Regions from separate parts of the Homo sapiens genome. Here region 1 is linked to region 2. A link means that fine-mapping ties the variant in region 2 to the expression of a gene that starts in the linked region. Tissue or cell type: whole blood. Region 2 holds a variant in brackets; the other region holds the start of a gene. All regions are shown on one strand. Distances are from middle to middle.

What was found. PIP is the estimated chance that this variant, and not a neighbour inherited with it, causes the effect.
Region 1: RFX7 starts here. The variant in region 2 is fine-mapped to the expression of RFX7 in whole blood (INTERVAL, PIP above 0.99).

The regions. Positions count from the first base shown.
Region 1 is chr15:56,237,792-56,248,340 of GRCh38, forward strand. It overlaps RFX7 (regulatory factor X7), which reads right to left and starts at 6,088. Exons shown (of 10, transcript NM_022841.7): 1 at 5,654-6,088; 2 at 5,334-5,496. The coding sequence starts at 5,494. It overlaps LOC124903569 (laforin-like), which reads right to left and starts at 7,027. Exons shown (of 3, transcript XM_047433428.1): 1 at 6,943-7,027; 2 at 6,192-6,388; 3 at 5,560-6,091. The coding sequence starts at 7,027. The coding sequence ends at 5,642. It also overlaps a transcript of TEX9 not described here. RefSeq lists silencers at 5,614-5,683, 5,774-5,833, 5,984-6,273, 6,764-6,813 and enhancers at 6,060-6,705, 6,706-7,351, 7,064-7,113, 7,352-7,997.
Region 2 is chr15:56,190,906-56,201,454 of GRCh38, forward strand. All of the region lies in intron 2 of RFX7 (regulatory factor X7), which reads right to left. It also overlaps the pseudogene LOC390586. Among named protein-coding and RNA genes, the nearest start is that of RFX7, 48 kb to the right of the region's middle. The variant C/G (reference allele first, on the strand shown) is at 4,856.

The sequences.
Region 1 (10,549 bases), 47 kb after region 2:
AGACAATTTTATCAGTTTAAAATCATAGGAGAGCAAGGAACTGCCTTCCTTCTGGAACCAGAAACCATGTTGGGACACAGCTAGCCTCAATACGGATATGCAAAATGCATCTTAAGTCTTTTGTGTGCTTGGTATTGAAGACAGGCTAAACTCAGGGTAGGTAGGAGGTCAACCTACTAATCAAAAATACATGGAAGCCAGCTGATGTGCTAGTCGGTCTGTATTTTTAAAGCAAAATGAAAATCATAGACTTTCAGTTAAAGTAAACTCTAAAGTTATGAATTTATAGTACATGTTTTCCACTGTAGCTGAAGGAACAATATTTCTCAACAGAGTTAATAAACTACCTGATTCAAAAACCAAGAATAAAACTGAACCACTGCATTCTAGGATGGCGGACTGTAATCAGAACTAATATGGCATCACTATGTAAACCTTCTGGATCACCAAACACAGCTCCCTGTAACTAAGATGGAAACAAGAGATTAATCACTTAATATCTAGATGTTGATTGTCATCATCATAAGAAAGTAAAACAAAATTGTTCAATTTGGGTTTTAACTAGAATTCAGAAAACATCCAAAATAGATCATATATATAATTCTACTTTTATTATAATCTTCAGCCTAAAATATAGCAGATACAGAAGTATGTATGCCTTACAGGATTGAATAAAGATAAGGAACTCTGACCCCAGCATTTTTTCCAGGGTCTAATAAGGAATCAGTAGAATCTTATAGGTCTTCTGTCATTGTTTATCTCTTTCCATAAAGTGGGCAAAACGATAGATCTTATATGACCGTTTTAAGAAGAGGCTTATGAGGTCTTGCCTGCAAATAAAGTTACAGAAATAAAAACAGTAATTGATAACAAATTCTTTTAAGAATCCCTAAATTTGAGTAAATGCAGTATTGGAATATTTTCTAAAATAAAACATCAGGATTTCTTTTGAATTTTCAGGTACAAGTTTAATACAAGTTGACTATCTCTTATCTGAAATGCGTGGGATCATATGTGCTTCCGACTTATTTATTTATTTATTATTTTTAGTTTTTTATTTTGAACCAGAGTCCTGCTCTGTCGCCCAGCTGGAGTGCAGTGGCATGATCTCGGCTCACTGCAACCTCCACCTCCTGGGTTCAAGGGATTCTCCTGCCTCAGCCTCCCAAGTGGCTGGGACTACAGGCGCACGATGCCACACCTGGATAATTTTTTGGATTTCAGTAGAGACGGGGTTTCACCGTGTTGCCCAGGCTGGTCGCAAACTCCTGAACTCAGGCAATCTGCCCACCTTGACCTCCCAAAGTGTTAGGATTACAGGCGTGAGCCACTGCGCCTAGTGTGCCTCCAATTTATTATTTTGGATTTTGGAATACTTGCATATGTGTAATGAGCATCTTAGGGATGTAACCCAAGTCTAAACAAGAAATTCATTTATGTTTCATATACACCTTATACACATAACCTGAAGGTAATTTTTATACAATTTTTTTTTTAACGGAGTTTTGCTCTTGTTGCCCAGACTGGAGTGCAATGGTGCAATCTCGGCTCACAGCAACCTCCGCCTCCTGGGTTCAAGCGATTCTCCTGCCTCAGCCTCCCGAGTAGCCAGGATTACAGGTGGGCACCACCACCCTCGGCTAATTTTTTGTATTTTTAGTAGAGACGGGGTTTCACCATGGCCAGGCTGGTCTTGAACTCCTGACCTCAGGTGATCCGCCCGCCTCAGCCTCCCAGAGTGCTGGGATTACAGGTGTGAGCCACCGCGCCTGGCCTATACAATATTTTAAATAATTTTGTGTGTGATACAATGAAGTCAGGTGTGGAATTTTTCACTTGTGGCACTAAAAACGTTTGGGATTTTGGAGTGTTTCAGATTCTGGAGCATCTTGAATTCTGGGGGATTTTGGATTAGGGATGATCAACCTGTATCTATGTTACAGCCTCACTGCAAATATGTTATTCACTCCCACTCATGTAGGTATGATCTCAATTCACAAACAGGCAGAAACCATCTCAATCCTATTTTTTCCACAGCAATTTTATTCTATCAGGGTTTCAAGTAAAACTGCCTTAAAAAGGTAAATAAAAGGACTTAGTAAATGTGTTTACTGTTGCTTACACTAAAAAATTTTCACTAAACTACGAAGACACTGAGAGATAAGAGGAAGGGAAAACTTGCTTTGGTATTTCTTTTTTTTTTTTTTTTTTTTTTGAAGTAACCAAAGAGGGGTACAATTTAAGCTAAAAGAAGTTTGCAGTTAGGTTGGGTTGTGGCCTTGTTTTAGGTAAAAATACATGGGTTACTAGTTTTCTTTTTTTTTTTTTAACAACAAAAAGCTAATTTTGGAATTCTACTTTTTAGAAAATACAAATAACCTTACAGCATATTCAATACTAAAGCACATGCCTACTAAGAAATCTCCTTTCTAGTGAATAGTGTCAGTGATTTGGACCTTTTGTCTATGGAGTAAGAATGAGTAAGGGTAAGAAACATGCAAGCTTGTTAACCTAGAGTTAACTTGAAGGTATTCATAACCATATTATAGAAACATAACAACATTGTCAATTTTGTACTAACCTTATTTTCTATAATTACCTTTAAAATATATTTCCAACTCTTTTCCACTCAACTTTGAATGCTTTTTTTCCAGACTCATTTAATGCCTGATATTTCAATGCACATACTTTTATCAAACCATATTTCAGTTTAATAAACAGAGTAAATTATGAACTGATAACTTATTGTCCAAAGGCCTACATCACATACTATATTTATATTTGTAGAGTAGGAGGACAAGTACAGACTTGTTTGTGATATGCAAGCCCAGTAATTTAGAAACTATGATAAACCAAATGCAAAACCCATTTGATAATTTTTAAATGTCACATTTCTTTTGAGTGTAATTTTAAACTCTCATTAATAATGGCACCAAAGGATGATTCAGGAAGTAGTACAAAACTGATAGTCTCTCAGAATATTATCAGGTGATAAAATAATTTGTAAAATAATATTATTGTCTCAAAAATGTGAAATATCTAACTGCAATCATCTATTAAAAATGATTTAATACATATATACTATTTCTTAGGAATATATGGTAGTAAAGGAGTTTTCACTTTTGATATCTTTATTTTACATAGTCACTTGATGAATAATATAAATCCATTCTTGTGGAGCAGGGGGTATGACACTATTAAGTATATTTACTAATTTTGTTTATTATCTACAAATGTTGTTTATTCCGAAATTTTAAGTATATAAAAATCATTTTTGCAAATAGGATTTCTAAAGTTGATCATTAGATGCCAATAAGTGTATCATTACAATTTTAAAACAAAAATATAAATTTTCATATTTTGGGATTCACGTGTTTGCTGCCCATTATTTTTTCAGAGCAAGTACCAAAAACTGGAGTGCACTCTACTTCAGAAGTTTTTCTCATGTTAAAGTCAGAGCAGTTAGGCTGTAATGGATGTGCCAATATAAAAAAAAATTAAATTTACACATTATTTGCCAAAAAGTGCACTCGACTATCATCATTATTCAAACATTTCAGTCAGTTGCCTCCACAACTCACTTATTTTAAAACTATAAAGTGAAGATTCCTTTCCCCTCTTGTTCTCATAATCAATTAAAATATACATTACTCATTCAACTTTTAAAATTTGTCTCTCTTAAAAGATTTTAGTCCATTAACTTGGATTTCCCACATCTGAATGTAAAACCAAGGTGCTTAATTCAATTTAATGATGATTTCAGAAACACAAAGTTACGTCACGTTACTAGAGGTTAAAAACACACACACATACACACTGGTTTTGTGAAAACCTTGATGGCAAGCAAGATATTCACCATCTCTTCTTTTAAATTATAGCTTTAAAAAGGGGGTGAGGGTATCCATTGAAGAATAAAGCCTGCTTTCTGTCACACACACACACACACACCCCAATCATATCTATCAGACCTATTCAAGTTGCCACAACATGACTATTGTCAAAGCCAAAAAAATTCTCCTTTAAAATATTTAAACTTCATTTTAAAATTAAAACTGAAAGCAAGATACTCAACTGCCAACTACTGTTGATGAAACTATTAAAGCCTGCACTGACCTACTTCATATCAGCATCATGACGGCATGGATGCATGCCAAGAAAATAATGAAAATTACTATATAACTAACCTAAATCTTGTATTTAAAAATTGTCACTTTAAAAATGTGCAAATACTGTTCATGCAACGCCAGTTGCTTTACGATATGTTTTCAAAATGAGAAAATGAGTTTTGATATTTTAGTACTCATATTCAATGATGGCCCTGCAAAGATTTCATTTCCATTTTCAAAATCAAGGCTTTTTAAAATACCATATAAAATTCTTTTTAAACTTCTATTAAAAGCAATCTTAGACCAAATTCCAAATATTACTTTCCATTTAAAAAATATTGCTACACTTAAAAAAGGCAGTTAATGAAGCATCCTACAAAACAATGCAAGTTCATGTTCAAAGAATATTGCAATGGCTCTAACAGTGGATGGACTTAGTGTATTTAATTATTAAAAGATTCCCACTAGACTTTAGGAGTTTAATGCTGAAATATTGGAAATTTTCATACAAGAAAGTAAAATAGCGAAAGATATTCCATCAATGGTTTCTTTTAAAAAGACATACAAATGGCAAGACATTTGATTCCCTATATTTTAATTTAAAAAAAAACCACTTTGTTGTAAACTACCATCTTAAAATATTTTATACTAAAAAAGCACTTTCTTCACAATCAATGCAAAGAATAAACTCCCTGAAAAAGAAATTTAATATTAGGATAAGGGAGGCAAAAACATTCAGAAATAGCAGCTAACCCAACTGAAAGGAAGAGACACATTAGGTTTTGTGCTGCATATTAATATTCTTACGCACAGTATCTGTTTGGTGAAAATTCACAATACACTTCTTCCTCCTTCTATGGCTGCAAAAAGGAGTAAACACATTTCACATTCTCCAGTTCCAAATTCATGCCACCATCATGCAATATGACTTAATTTCGACCCATATTTCTGTTACAATGAGTGAAAAAATAAAACCAAAAAACTTGTTTATCTGCACTCACAATTGAGGAAGGGGTAAAAGCATTTTTTAGCTAAGAAGACAGGGGCTGATTGATGCAAAGTCCGCACACCTCCAGAGATCCTACAAATGTGCACCCGACTGGGGAAAGCCACATTCAATGAATGCATCAGCCTCCTCCTCCGCTCCCCCCGCCCGCCGCCCCCCACCCACTTTGCAGCAGAAATGTGCCTGGGCTTTTTCACGCGAGCGATGGAGGATCCTCTTACCAGATGGAGTTCTTGATCTTGTGTTGCAGCGCGCTGGCCTCTGTCCCTGGCAGCCCGGGCACAAGGGCTGGCAGGGCCACCCCCGAGTTGGGGGCGCTGGGGGGAAGCTGCTGATGGGCATCAGGCTGCTGTGGTGGCGGCTGTTGTTGTTCCTCTGCCATCGCTGCAGAGGGGTGGGAGGGAGGGAGGGAAAGATGGGGGCGCGGGGAAGGGTGAGGGAAGAGACCGGGAGGGGAGGACGAAGGGGGGAGAGGAGGAGGGGGAGGGGGAGGGGAAGAGGAGGAGGAGGAGGAAGGAAGCTGGATAAGCTAGGCCTTTACCCCAGGGCTCGAGTGAGTCGCTTTCGCCTGCCGCCTGGGGAACATCACCGGGGAGACCAGCGGCTCCTCACGGCCGGGGCGCTTCACCGCGGGAGAGGCATGGCGGCGCCCCTCAGCCCCCCGCTGGCGCCGCCGCCTCCTCCCGTCAGCGGCCGGGGCTGTGGGGGGGTGAGATGGGGGCGTTTGAAGACGAAGTGGGGGGGGCAGGCTCCCCCCAAAATCCAAGAAGAACGGTTGCTCAGGGATTTGGCGGCCAAGCCTTCCTTCCTTGTCCCCGGGGCTTTCTACTGCCGGGTCCCCGTGCTGCTGCAGCCCCAGGCACCGCTCCACGCCACTCCCCACGCCGCCGCCGCCGCCGCCGCTCGCTCCCGGCCCCGCCGCCGCCGCGGCCGCCGCTGCCCTGCCAGCCCCGGAGGCAGCCCAGTGCGCGCAGCCGCACTGCGGCCCGGCGCAGACCGCACAACACCTACCGCTCCGCCGGGGGGCGTGGACCAGGGTGTGCGGGCCGCGGGCGCGACGGGCCGGGATGGGGGCGCACGGCGCGGAGGGCGGCGCGGGCCAGCGGGCCAGGGAAGCGCGCCGCTGGGGGCCGGGAGGAGTCCGGCCCGGCTGGTGGAGAGCAGGAAAACGTGGGGGAGGTGCTGGCGAGAGAAAGAGAACTTGCGTGAGGAGGAGGAGGAGAAACCAAATTTAATAATATTTGGCGTGGAAATGGGATTTGGGCGGGGGAGGCATCTTCAAAGCAAGTAAAGAGAAATCAACATTATCCCCCTTCCCCTGCACATGCATGTGAGGATTACTTCCTCCCTGAGTAAATGAAGAGAACTGAAGCAGGTAAGACGATAAACTGACTTTTCAGAAGCCCCCAAAGAAGAACACCCGTTGGAATTAACCACCCTTTAGGTAATTCGGTCTTGAACGGAAATCGCGAGTCAGGAGCTGGGTTGAGTGCTCCTCGGTCGGGCATTCAAAGCCCTCCAAATCTGGCCCCACTTTAACTATCCAATCATAGCGGCCTCCATCCCCCTGCAAGAACTCCCGGCTCCAATCAGGGAAGTCTCCATGCCATCCTCAACGCGCAGCAGATTCATTCTTCCTTCGTGCCTTTGCTCATGCTGTTCCCCTCCACCTCCCCACCCCACCCCACCCCCTTTCCAGGAATGCCCTCCCTCCTTTATACCGCTCCCAATTCCACCCAGGCTCTAAAGCATAGCTCAAGTCGCGGCTTGTCAGGGTCCCTGCAGCCAAGGCCACTGCCTGCCTCTGAAAGAAACGCATGTAGTACTCACAACATGGAGGCTCAGGCGTCAGCCACGAGCTCCTTCCTTTGGAGCCCGTTGAACACCCGCCCTCCCCCCGCAGACTCCGCACCATTCCCCCCCTTCCCATTCATACCTAAATGATAGCTTTGCCACAAATAAGTCAGTCTCCTTTAAGAGCAGAAGAATTGGCTTTTCTAGGTGGGGCTGATCAGGGAGGCTGCGTGGATGTAGAATACAACAGCCAAGGCCTCTGGCACCAAATGGAACAGCTGTTCAGCTCACACTGACCTTTCTTTGGGCCCGTGGGTGTTATGAGCCCTTCAGCTTTAACTTTTCTGATAGAGTGTCTATCAGGTTTCTACCTGTTAGATCCTCTGGCCACTTTCCTGCTGTGTGTGGACTTTGGGCTGTGGGGCTCTGCCACCTTTTAGACTCCTAGTGGATGGTGAATCTGATTGGCTTGGGTTGCCTGGCCTTTGAGTTCTCAGTTCCCTGCCTTGGCCTGAAACCCTCTTGCTTTTGTCCACTGTGCCCTCTCTCCTGGCCCACAGACTTAAGGCCCAGACTCACACTGAATGCTTGCACGTGGTGAGGGTTGAGGGTGGGGGTGCAGGGAGGAAGAACACCTGTGTGCAAAATAAGCCGCCCCCCCGCCCCCGGGGCCTCTTGGATTACGCTGTGCTCCAACTACCCATTGCACGAGTTGCATCACACAAATGAGCCCCCTTTTCCATACTCTAAGGTCTCTATTAGCTTAGCCACTTTAGGAAACTATAGGTGGTTTACGACATTCATTTTGCATACATATCTTCATGTGGGTGTGTAAAGACAGTATTTTTGTGGACCTAATTGATAGACATGGTGTGCACTAGACAGAAGCTTTGAAGGATAAAAATAGCTAATGTTTGTTGAACACTTTGTGTGCCAGACTAGCACTTTCCATACATTATCATAGTTATTCCTCCCCAAGAGTGTATAATGTAGGTATTATTAGTCTCCCTCTGTTACAGATGAAATGGAAGCTTAGGTTAATTAACATTCTTAAAATTACCCAATTAGTAAATGCAGGAGCCAAAATTTGAGTCCTGGAAGTTTAATTCCAGAGCCTGCAAGCTATGCTGAAACTGGAATTACGCTGAAAAATCTTGAATGTAGGTATATATATACGTGTGTGTGTGTATGCCCTATATCACGTTGAGGAAAGTTGCCAAGTTCCCCAAGGTTCTAATTTTTTGCCTTGCCAAGAGAGAATGATGGCTCCAAGTTGCAACACCCTGGGAGGGGGAGATCCTTAGGAAGTGGGAGAGTCATCGAGGGGGTAACGTATCTAAGGTCTGCCAAAGGCCTTAAGAAAAGGAAGCCGAGAACCAAGACGTTTTATAAAAAGTTCGCTACCGGGTGTCACACAGGCTGGCTTCCCAAGTGCAACTTCTGAGAGTTTTTAATGGGTTCCATAAAAGAGCCAGGTCACCCCAGCAGCCACTAGAGGGCTCACGAAGCTGCAGCCGCGGGCTGCCCTCTAGCGGCGGTGCTGACCGGAGTGTGGTGGTAAACCTTTTCCGGCCTTCCAGGACCTACAGGGAGTTGAAGGAGACCAGCAATGGGAGGGGTGGCAGAGAGTATCAGACTGAGGAGACCTTATTGCCAGAGTGAGATACCCTTTCAGGGAGGAAAGGGGCAGCCCTCACTACTCACTTAACATCTGGGAGTACAGTGGGTGTTTTGTTCCAGTCTTCAGAGAAGACTGTGAATAAAATCATGACATTAAGAAATCTGATGAAGTTACCCAAAATTTTGAGTGTGGACTCAAGCCAAACCCAGGGACCCTGAATAAAGGCAGGAGTGTAGCCATGTGCTTCTCATATTATGTGGGTTCCTTTGATTGTGCAACCCTGTACTGAGGACCCTCAAGGACCCAGAATCAATGTGGCTCATTTTCTCTGAGCATCATTTTGACTCTCTGGTAAATAAGGTAAGACATTGTAGTAAGCATGACTTTTTAAGATAACACACAAGTATTACCCAACCCTGAGGAGCCTAAGTTTATTCTCTACTGGGAAAGTGTACACCAGAGGAAAATTTTGAGGAACACTGATGTAGTGGGTTAGAAAAACCTGGCCTTGGAGTCAGAAGACCTGGGAATTCAAACCCTCTGTTTCGATCTCTATAAAAATGAAAATAATGATGTACATCAGAGGGTTGCTATAAGGAAAACATGAAAAGTTATAGGTAAACCAGGGAAGTGTTGTCCACATTTAGAGAGTATCTACAAGATGGATTGTCAGCACCTCAAAGGAAATGACTATTTTATTTATCCTAGTAGTCCCAGGACATAATTCCTGACTCCTGACTATTTAATAAATATTTGTGGAATTTAGTAGTTAACTAACCCTCATTTTCCTAGCCCAATCCATTATATTGTCTTGCTCTCTTGTGTCTGTAAACCTTGTCTCCTTTATGAAACTGTAAACATTTTATACTGTCCAGACTGTAGTATATACATTTATCATGCCTGATATATAGCAGTATTGGGCACGGAAAATATGAATAAATAAGACCTGGCCCCAACTTGAAGTAGTTTACATTTTTGTGAAGTAGAGCAACATATTAACATATATAAGATGATGAGTTATAAACATATCCACTAGTGTTGTGGAGTCATAATGGAGGGAGGGATTGGTCTTGCTCAGGGTAGAAGAACTGGAGAAGGCATCATGGCTGGCATTTTAATTGGGTCTTGTTGGATGAATAGGAGTTGAGTAGGCAGAGCAACAGAGGGAAGATGATTTCAGATAAAGGGAGTAACATGAGCACTGGTGTGAAGCCATGAAAGGGTACTGTTTGCTGAAGGAATAATGCATAGCACGGTGTTGACTCTGTGATCAGATCCTAAAGTAGTATAGGCGAGGGAAAAGAAGGAGAGAGAGACAAAAACCCACTTTACAAAATGTTACTTTGCATTATAGTTAGGATCGTTCTATCAAAGGAAGGCCTGAAAGTCGGTTTCATTATTGGTACATACTGATTAAGTGCTGAAAGTATACATTTCACTTCCACAAAGTATGGTGGTTTACCAGATATGGAAAAGGTAAAGTTCTACCCTGTTCTCCTTCTTTCCCAACTTGAATATAAAAATAAAATACTCCTCTCATCCTCTTTTCCCCTGATCATTACTTCCTCTGTCTTTTTCCATTGCAAGCTTTCTCCTCTAGAAGCTGAAAGTAGAGTTTAATGACCTACATGTTATTTAAGAGAACAAGGAAAGAAGGCTTTTCACCTCTCCCAATTCTTCCTTGATAGCAGAAAGTGATGGATAATTTCTTTCAGCTAAGCTGTTGTCTTTCAAAGTGCAAGTAGTCCTAGGAGGGCTTATATATATATAAGTTTCAATGCTGTAATGTGATTGAGCTTTCTTTCAGTCTTTAATAGCATTAGAGAGAAGAGGATGTGGGAGGGAGTGAAGAGGAGAAAAATAAAAGCAGCAGCAAGATTACAGAAGAGGGAAGTTGGGGGGTTCAGAACTAAGTTAATATTGGCAAATTTTGATACATGTTCTCAATACCAAGAGTGCTAATGTAAGTATGCTGTGAAAATGTGAATTCTTCTGTTAGAGCACAAATATGTCATTATGTCA
Region 2 (10,549 bases):
GGCATTCAAGAAACACAAATTGGATACTATATACATATATTTTTAAAGTATATTCAGAAAGTTAAAAAGAGACATCTTAGAAATTAAATCTATTTAGGCTGGCTATTTTCTGTTTGCTCTTTGAAATCACTCTCTACCCTCTGTGATAACCCAGGAAGCTGGACTTTTCACCATCAGTAGGGCTCCCTTCCTCTCTGGCCAATTTTTGTCACTGGACAGAGGTAGGGATGTAAAAGAAGAGAAAGCACCTGGTTCTCTCTGACAGGCAATGAGTTAGTGGTTTGGGTAACTGTGGTTTTTGTTAGCATGTTTTGTAATATCTTTTTGAGTCAATAAATTATAAGTTCCTAAAGCTTTGATTAAAAAATTAAATATATGAAAATTCAAGTAAATAAAATTTCAAATAACAAAACCTCAAAGTTATCAAAAAAGAAATGGAATTACCTATAGACAAAGGAGTTAGAAGAATATATTTGCAATTATCTATCTTTTTACCATTACTCCAACTAGTTAAGAAAGCATTTTCAGCAGCTGGAAAGATATGCACAAAAATACACGTATCACTCAATAATAAACCACCAATGCACATCTGAGCCTGCACTTTATAAAAGCAGATAACATTTGACTTTTAAATATTTCATAATTTAAATGTTCATTTATTATTTTGGGGTTTCTTAAACATTTTTATTTTATACATGTTTATTTCAATTCAAATTTTGACAGACTAAAAGACTGTATTTTATTAGTCCATTTATAGGCAATTTTGCAACACTGATTTCTTGTGGGAAAAAAAAACCAGACAGATAGTAATTATTACGATCTGTGGAACTGAATGACCAGGAAAACCGACCTCTTACTGCAAACCAAGCACATGGAAAGCCCACCCATGCAGCAGCAGTGTCTTGATGATCAGCTGAATGGAGATATAACATCTTATGTTGTGCCCAGAAGGTAGGGTAAGGCTCAAGGCTGCAAGGGGCAAAATGTTCTCATAAAGGCAAGATTCAGGTGCTGCTTGCTGAAGCACTCCACAGACACACCCTGTCTGTCCCAATGGCTTGTGACTGCCACACAGCAACAATGAACACAATATACTCTCACTCTCACTCTCAGAGCAAGTATCTTCCCCTTATGAGAGAATGAATTCAGGCAATTCTTTACAAAAATGACAGCATTTGTTCCAAAGCACCAACAGTATAACGCTTTTTAGAAAATACACAGAAATAAACAGACTAAACATGGGAATTAGTTCTTAATGGTGGAATCTGTTACTACTGTATCTAGCGTAATAATAACTTCGGATAGATTACAATCAAAATGCTTATCAAATAGACTGTGCTGTGTGAGGGAATGTCTGACCAAAGAGTATTCTCACAGGCACTTTGGGTGCTGGCTGGTAAGCGCTCACAGGGATTCTTCTCAGTGCCAGAGAAGCTGAGCATCACATGTATTTGTAAAATCCTTCTCCAGACTTCTTGCCAAGCTTCTTCTCTGCCATCAGCTTTTTCAAGGATGGGCTGGGCTGAAATATGGGGTTCTTTGTATCTATTTCATGCCATCCATCCATGATGAACTGCACAGAATCCAGCCCAACGTAATCTAGAAGCTCAAGTGAGCCCATGGGGTACCTGGCTCCTAACTACATAGCAGTGTCAGTGTTCTCCTTGGATACATCACCTCATTCATGCAGCCTGACTGCTTCCATGAGGTGTTGAATCCTGAGACAGCTGACAATAAACCCAGGAGTGTCCTTGCAAGGAACAGGATGCTTTCCCAGGGTTTTGCTCAAGTTTACCAAAGATTCAAATGTCTTTCGGGTGGTCACTGGTGTTTTAAAGACCTCTACAAATTTCATCAGGGGCACTGGGTTGAGTAAATGGAGGCCAGCAAATCGGTCTTGTTTGGTGGTAGCATTGGCTATGCTTGTAATTTGCAAAGAGGAAGTGCTGCTGGCAAACTTGTATGTTCAGCAACAAACTTGTCCAACCTCTTGGAGAGCTTGATTTTCACCTTTAGATTTTCTACAATGGCCTCTACCACTAGGTCTGTGCTGTGGACTACGGATATTGCATCTGTGCTGGTTGATATGCTGCTTAGGGTTTTCTCCACAAATTCATCAAAAGCCTTAGGGTTTTCTACAAACAACTTCTTTGTCACTTTCCTAAGGCTTTTCTCAATTCCCTCTTTATATTTTGCCAAGATGTCCTCTGTCTGGTCTAGCAACACTACTGTGTGGCCGGTCACTGCAGCAACCTGTGTGATGCTGATGACCATCATGTGCTTGATGATGATTTTTCTTGCCCAAGGTTGTGGACAAGGAAGACAAAGAGTGCATGAACTGCCTGGTGATGAAAGCCATGGTGCAGTGGCGGCGGCGACTGCAACAAGACCCAGGCAGGAAAGGCGCGTGTGGTGTTGGGACCAGCAGACGGGCAGCCTCTGAGGCCATTTTCTATTTTTGAATAAAATGATACTACTAATTTTATCTGCAAATAAGTTTTGTTCAAATGACAATGTATGCTCAACATTAATATTTTTCTAATTTTTTAAATTGATGATTGTTGATAATTGATAATGACAGGCATTGAACTTCCTGTTTTGCTGATTTTTAACTTTTACAAAAATTTTAATTAAATAGTATCAGTCTGGTATTTTGGTATTAGATTTTAAAAAACAAAATTTCAGTACCATAATTGTGCTGTGGTATCATAACTATTACATTTATGGAACATGCTAACTACTCATCTTCTAAATCTTTCAAGATTTACATCTCAAGTCATATTACCAGAATGTTATTGATATAAAGTAGTAGGGAAGAGGGGGAAAACATCAGCAATAAAGCAGATAAAAATTTAAGCAACAGAGATGGCTTGAGAAAGCATATTGTGTTTTCTCTAAATCAAACTATAGGGTGAAGCTAGATAAAGCTTTCTTATCCAGGGGGGCTACACAAAAGAAATAATAAATTTTAGGAAGCATGTGTTTAAAAATTAAAAAAACTTAGTCTAATCCTACTTTCTCACAAAGAAATGTCACAAAAATACCATGTAACATTTCCCTTTATTCAAATTTAAAGATGATACAATAAATAAATTAGCAGTCATGGGCCAAACATATATAATATATAATACAATGTAAGCAATAGTATCACAGAAAGAACATTTAGATATCTTGTTTGCTAGAAACATTTCAGAAACTTTCCCCAGTTTCAACAAATCATTGATAAACTATTTTTTACTGCAGAAAATATTCTAGGAGACTCTCACTTGTCCCTTCCAACACCAAGTTTAGCCTCTATCCAAAAGTTCAATGCTATTTTTACATTTATTTGGAGTCCTCAAGTCTGAAGTCAGAGTGACTCACAACTCCTATATACTTGATTCAAATTTCTTGTGTTATAGAAACAGAGGTATCTGTGAATACCAGATACTAGATTTAACCCAAAGACAATCTGAAATAGAGGAGGTATACTATAATAGATCAACGAGAAGAAGCTCTTACATTCTATCCTTACCAGGACAAATCAAACTCTTAGCTTCTACCCCTATAAAATAATTAATTCCGTTAAAAACACATTGACTTCAGATCCCTTTTGTAGGTTGTGACTTGGCTCGCAGTCCATCATAGCAAAACTTATTTTTACCTTATACTTGCTTATATTAAATGAAAACTATTTACTTTTACTTTTGTTTGCTCATATGCTATAAAACAAAATTTTTTATATTTAAAAAAATAATAATAGTCATAATAGTGGCTAATGCTAAAAAGGTGTAGCCAGAAAAAAAGGAAATAAAAAACATTCGGAATCACACCATGAAGACATTTAAATTCACTTACTTTGTCTTCTTAAAAATAATGGATTCTGTTGGTAAGGATGGGGAGAAATTGGAATCCTTGCACATTGCTTGTGGGAATGAAAGATGATATGGCTGCTCTTGAAAAACTTGACATATCTTCAAAAAGCTAAAACAGAGAATTACCACTTGACCTAACAATTCCACCCAAAGAAATAAAAATAGGAATGCAAACAAAAACCTCTACACAAATGGGCTGATGTTCATAGCAGCACTGTTCACAAGAGTCAAATGGAGGAAACAACCCAAATGACCATAAGTGGATGAATGGATAAACAAAATGTGATATATTATTAAAATGAAATATTATTCAACCATAAAAAGGAATGCAGTATCAACAAATGCTACAATATGGATAAACCTTGAAAACTTTATGCTAAGTGAAAGAAGGCAGACATAAAAGGTCACATATTGTATGACTCCCTGTATACAAAATCTCCAGAATAGCTATATCCAGAGAGATAGAAAGCAGATGAGTGGTTGGTTGGGGTTGCGGAAATGAAGAGTGACTGCTTAATGCATATTCCTTTTGGATGATGAAAAATGTTCTTGAACTAGATAGAGGTGATGGCTACATAACACTGTAAAGTTACTAAATGCTACTGAATCATACACTTTATGTGGTTAATTTTTATGTTATTAATTTTACTTAATAAAAAATAATTAGGATCATAAAATTAAGAAAAAACTTCCTTTAGATACTACTAGTGCCTAATCAACAGATTGCAAACTATCAATTCTGTTTCTCTCTGTAATCCAAGTTGCCTTTGAAATAGTCATTGTTCTTAGTACTTGCCTGCTCTTATGAATTTTAGAGACTCTACTTTTCATGAAAGGAAATTAACCAAAGACCCGTGTTTCTCAACCAGGTACTGACATTTAGGATGGCACCCTGCTTTACTTTATGGGTTTATCAAATGCATTATAAGATGTTTGGAATCATACAGTGGTGTTCACTAAATGCCAGCAGTGCTTCCTAGACATTCTGACAGCTAAAATTG[C/G]CCCACATTATTTCCACTTGTTTCTAGTTGAGAGCCACTGCTCTAGAACAAAATGACATATGCTATGTATTGTGTTACATTATAAGAAGTTCCCTAATATACGCAACTCAATGCTCTACAAATGAGTCATTTCAAAAGCTCACACGTTTTTATGTATGGAAAGTAAACATCTTGCTTTTGACATAGGATGCTATAAAGATTTATTGATTTTATTGTTGTTCTAAACATAAAATCTAATTTCAGCCAGAAGAATGAACTTTATCATAAGGTAACTTGTGCCTGATATTTGATTACTAGATCATATTACACAAATGAATTTTCAACTTCTATTAATAACATTATTTCATTCATATATTTTCTTTGCTTTTTAAAAAATATTATCAGGTTCCAAATATATAGGAAAGTTATAAAGAATAATATAACACCCATGTACCTGCTAGCCAGTTTGAACAAACTTCAACTTTTTCCTTTTTTCTTTAAGGAAGAAAACTTTACAGATAAAGTCCCCATGGGATCTTTTCCTATCTCATTCCACCATTCCTTTCTCAGTGGTGACCGCTATCCAGAAGTTGTTATTATTCCCATGAATGTATATACATTTACTACAAATGCTGACTATCTCCATAAACAATACAATAGTTTTGTTTACTTCACAGGCATGAAGTTCTGCGGCATGTATCACTCTTTTTTTTAAAAAAATTTACTTAATAGGCATTAGAAGTTTATCTATTTTGATACATTCTAGTTTACCCATTTTAACTGTTACATAGAAGTGTGGATTCAATTGTGTGTCCAGACCCCTCCCCAAATTTGTATGTTGAAGCCCTAACCCCCAAGTGCTGTATCTGATGGAACGGATACAGCACTCGGAAGGAATCAACCCTGCTGGCACCTTGATCTTCGACCTCAAGCCACCAGAACTGGTAAAAATAAAATAAAATAAAATAAATTTCTATTAAGCCATCAAGTCTGTGGTACTTTGTTATGGTTGCCCTAGCAAACTAATATGCACGGTATTCCATTGCTTTATTTATTCTTTAATAATGGGCTCTTAACGGTATTTCCAGCTCTGTACTGTAACATACAACATTGCAACAAATGTTTGGTATGGAGATCTTGTTATTCATATTGCAGGACTTTTTCTTGGACACATACACAAATATTCGCACACACACTACAGTATGTTGATCTTCAACTTTCTAATTATTGCCAAATTGCCTTTCAAGGTAATTTTGGCCAATCTATACTCCATCAGCTGTGTATAAGACTGATTTCTCTCTATCCTCTCCAAAATTGGTAATGACAGACTTCTGCCAATCGGATGGGTATGAAATATTTTGTTTTAAAATGCATTTTTTTTAATCAGTGATGTTGAACACCTTAATGTATTTGCTGATCACTAAGTTTTCTTCTGTGAATTGCCTACTCATATCCTTTACCCCTTTTTCTGCATGGTGGTTTTTATTATTTTATTTACTAATAGAAGCTCTTTTTATACTTTAGATACTAATCTTTTGTCAACTACTTGAGTTACATCGCCATCAGCGGCATGTTGCTTTTTTTAAACAGTGTTCATTGTCCAAGGAAAATTTTTATTTTAATATAGTCAAATATTTTTCTTTATGAAAAGTGCTTTTGACATGTTTTTAAAAATCTTCCTTACCGTGAGCTCCCAAAGTTATTTTATTTTCTTCTAAACTTTTGCTTTTCACATTTGGGGGCTGAGTTTTTCTGGATTCCATGTGTGATGTGATAGTTTTTTTTTCATATAGATAATGAAATGTCCCAGTGGGCCATCCCTTCCCTTGCACACAAGGCCTATGTCTTGTTAACCTGCTTCCTAAGTCTAGCACTTTGCCTGGTACACGTTAGGCAATTATAAACATGTGACCAATAAAAGGAAGGATGGAAGAAAGAGAAGGGAGAGAAAGGGAAGCAAAGTAGGGATAGGAGTGTGGAAAAAAAGTATTTGGATCATGGTCTTTGATACAAACTATATATTTGAACCACAGAAGTCAAAGGGTATTAAAACAGATTCAAGGGGTGGACTGCAGGAAGATGGGCTTTCCAGGATTCTGGAATGCTAGAGGTAAATATACCACTTAAGTGCATCTGGGCACTGACTCTGCTTTCTCTCCCCCAGGATGAGAATATGGTCTTGCTAGTGCTGAATTAGTTCAAAATCCAGAAAATTGTGATGTTATAAATATCATTTATTAAGTCTTTGCAGAATGTTCAAGAAAGCCTAGGTACAAAAAGGCAATGATATATTCAGAACTTGATACAGCAATGCTAGCTGAACCTTTCTCGTAGGGACGGTGGCTATATGTACCACAGGAAACCTAAAGAGATGGGAAAAACTTTTTTAGATATACTGTATTTGCTGCTATTCAGAATAGTCACTTGGTTTCTACATTCTTAACTAAATAATTTAGGAGCATACAACAGGTGGGTAATAGCCTCTTCCCAACAATCCCTAACCTGAAGTTCAAAGGTGGAATGCTGTAGTGGAGGCAGTATAAAAAAGAAAAAAAAGAATGGGACCTAGAATGACTTTTGCCTCAGACGCCCTCAAAAGAAAAACATCTCTCCCTAGAGCAACGTATGTCTAGTTCAGTATAGTCAAGGAAATATGTTCCATTAGAGTAAAAGGGACTCAGCCTCCCAATGTAAGTACGCAACACCACCTACAAAGTATTCTTGCTGAAATATTGAAACATATCTCTATTTAACTACCAATTTATAGTAATAAAGGGGAAGAGGAATATGCTACATAGCACCATGAAGATAAAATCAGCAAATCCAGACTGTGGGAAACTCCATAGGACAAAGGATCCAATTTCTTCAACAAATAAAAAACTTCAAGAAAAAATTTTTTAAAGGGATCTACAGTTTGAGAGATATCCACCAGTAGCCATAAGGACACTGATTCAAACAAACTGTAAATGTGATATGATGTCTGGGATTCCCTTCAAAATAACCAATGAAGACTTACAGATAAATAAGATTAGCTATGAAACTAATTGTTAAAGTTGAATAATAAAGACCTGAGAGTTCATTGTCTTTTCTCTCCTTTTGTATACATTCGAAATTTTTTACAATGAAAAGTTAAAAGAGGGGACTGGGTGTGGTGGCTCAGGCCTGTAACCCAGCACTTTGGGAGGCCAAGATGGAAGGATCACTTGAGGCCAGGAGTTCAAGACCAGCCTGTTCAACATAGCAAGACCCCATCTCTGACAAAGAAAAAAAAAAAAGTTAAAAGAGAGGAAGGACTTAGCAGATCCTTTTAAAAGGAAAAGCAAATAAACCATGTAGGACCTACAGCTAAGAGACTGCAGTCTGACACCTAAAAACCTTCTGATGTTGATTTAAACTGTGAAAAACTTAAAATTTACAAGAGAAGGCTGTAAATCAAAGATTCAACCACTATAACCAGTCTACTGAGTGACTGTTAATCAGTATTTACTTAAGTTACCACTGAGTGATACTGAAAGAATATTATTTGAAAGTGTAGGATATAATGACTCATTTTTGCTTTCTAATGAGTTATTTTCCTTTTTTGCTGTCCTTCCACGTATAGGTATCTTTCCTTACGTGATTGCTGGTTGCTCCAAATGCTGAATTTTACCATTGTAATATTTAAAAATAGCTAATTTGCTCTAACAGGATTGTAAAAATATGTATTTTGGGGAGGCAGAGTACTGAACAAATTGTGCTGCTCTCTTTAGCCTCAATCTATATGCCTTCCCTGTTTTCTTTAATGCAAGCATTTTCAGGTTGATATTAATATTAAAAGCTCAAAGAGTCAACAGGATTCAAATATGTCAAATAACAGGAAAGCATTTGCACATATAATATACTCCTTAAAGTTAAGAAGATCTTCAAATAAATTTATTTAGTAAGAAACACCATGGTAAATATAGCAGGAACCAAAAACATGGTCTTGACAGGAAGAATTCCAATTCTGCAACTACTAGCTATATGCCCTTGACTTAGAAGAATCATTTTTCCCGAGGCATACTACATCTCGAGTTTTTAAAATAAAGATTCAACATTTACATAAAAAGCCATATTGTAATAACAAGCATGTAATAGGTTCTTAATAAATGCTACATTAAAACTAAATCTAGTCTAACCCTTTCATTTACAAATTAGGATAAAAAATGACTTGTACAAGGTCACACACTGATTTTTATTTGGCTCCATTATCCAGTTAAAAATGCTATGATTATGTCTGATAATAATGCCTCCACTTTACACTGGGATTTTAATCAAGAAGAATATTTTGTGCCCCAGTCTTACCATTTTGGAACTTCCTCTGTCATAGAAACATTATATATTGTCAGTAAATAAGCTGAATTAAAGGTCAGTGCCCTCTAGTGCTGAACCTTCAGAGGTAGGTGCAGGTTCCAAATACAGGCAAATTTACCTAGTCTACAGAACAGGAAACAATCTCCATAAAAATAATGAAATGAAAACATGAGATAGCTACATGCACAGCGACCCATCTGTAAGGATGACTGTTCTCTCTGGGAGATGAGATTTTAAGCCTTTACTTTCTTTTCAAACATTTAAAAAGCTTTTAAAACTTTTTGTTATTGTTTAAGTTTTTATAACATATAAAACATTTAAAAAGAAGCTAAAACACAGGGCAAGATAACATCACTGGATTGCACAGTGGGGAAAACAACTCTTCTTCTCCTACTGCATAGTTTCAGAGGAAGTTACAAACCATGCAGCTTAGTATCTAATGTTACATTAAGAAAAAGTCGTAAAAGTGCTGTAATCCCAGCACTTTGGGAGGCCGAGGTGGGCGGATCACGAGGTCAGGAGATCGAGACCATCCTAGCCAACATGGTAAAACCCTGTCTCTACTAAAAATACAAAAATTAGCTGGGTGTGGTGGTGCATGCCTGTAATCCCAGCTACTCGGGAGGCTGAGGCAGGAGAAATGCTTGAATGAGGGAGTCGGAGGTTGCAGTGAGCAGAGGTCGCACCACTGCACTCCAGCCTGGCAAGCCTCGCCGTCTCAAAAAGAAAAAAAAAGAAAAAGTTGTGTCAGAGATAAGGCAGATCTTTAAATTGAGAAAAACAAGAGGATAAATGTGACTTCAATTTTTTGAATGTACTTTAGGTGCCACTAATAGGTGACATGCTATGTATGTACAAGTCTTTTTTTTTTTAACTGAAAAGCATTAAACCAGCCCATGGTATTAGGTGCTTAAATGATTATAAAAAAGAAAACCAAAATGGAAATGGTTTAGAGAGCTGAAGTTAAAATGAGAATTCCATTAAGGTGGCATATCCAGGTAATGGTGCTTAATGGGAAGACTACGGACTATACCAGTGTCTCATATAAATTAATATGAGAACATTTCTTAAAACTGTAGCTAAAATGGCCTACAGGTATACTTGTAAGACATGACTTATTACTCTTTTCTAGAGTTAAGAGTTTATTAGGGCAGTAAAGGGTTCAGTATCCCAAATCTGGTCCAAAAAATAAAGTCGCCAAGTTCAATGTCCTGTAGTCCTCCACTTAAACCCAAGAATCACAGAACTTTTCTTATCACAAAAGGCAAAACAATTCGAAAACCAATTTGATAGTTAATATTAAAATTCTCTTCCACAAGGCAGTAATAGAACCAAAGGAAAGAAAATCCAGCCTAAAAGCATTTCAATCTATAAAGGAGAAGG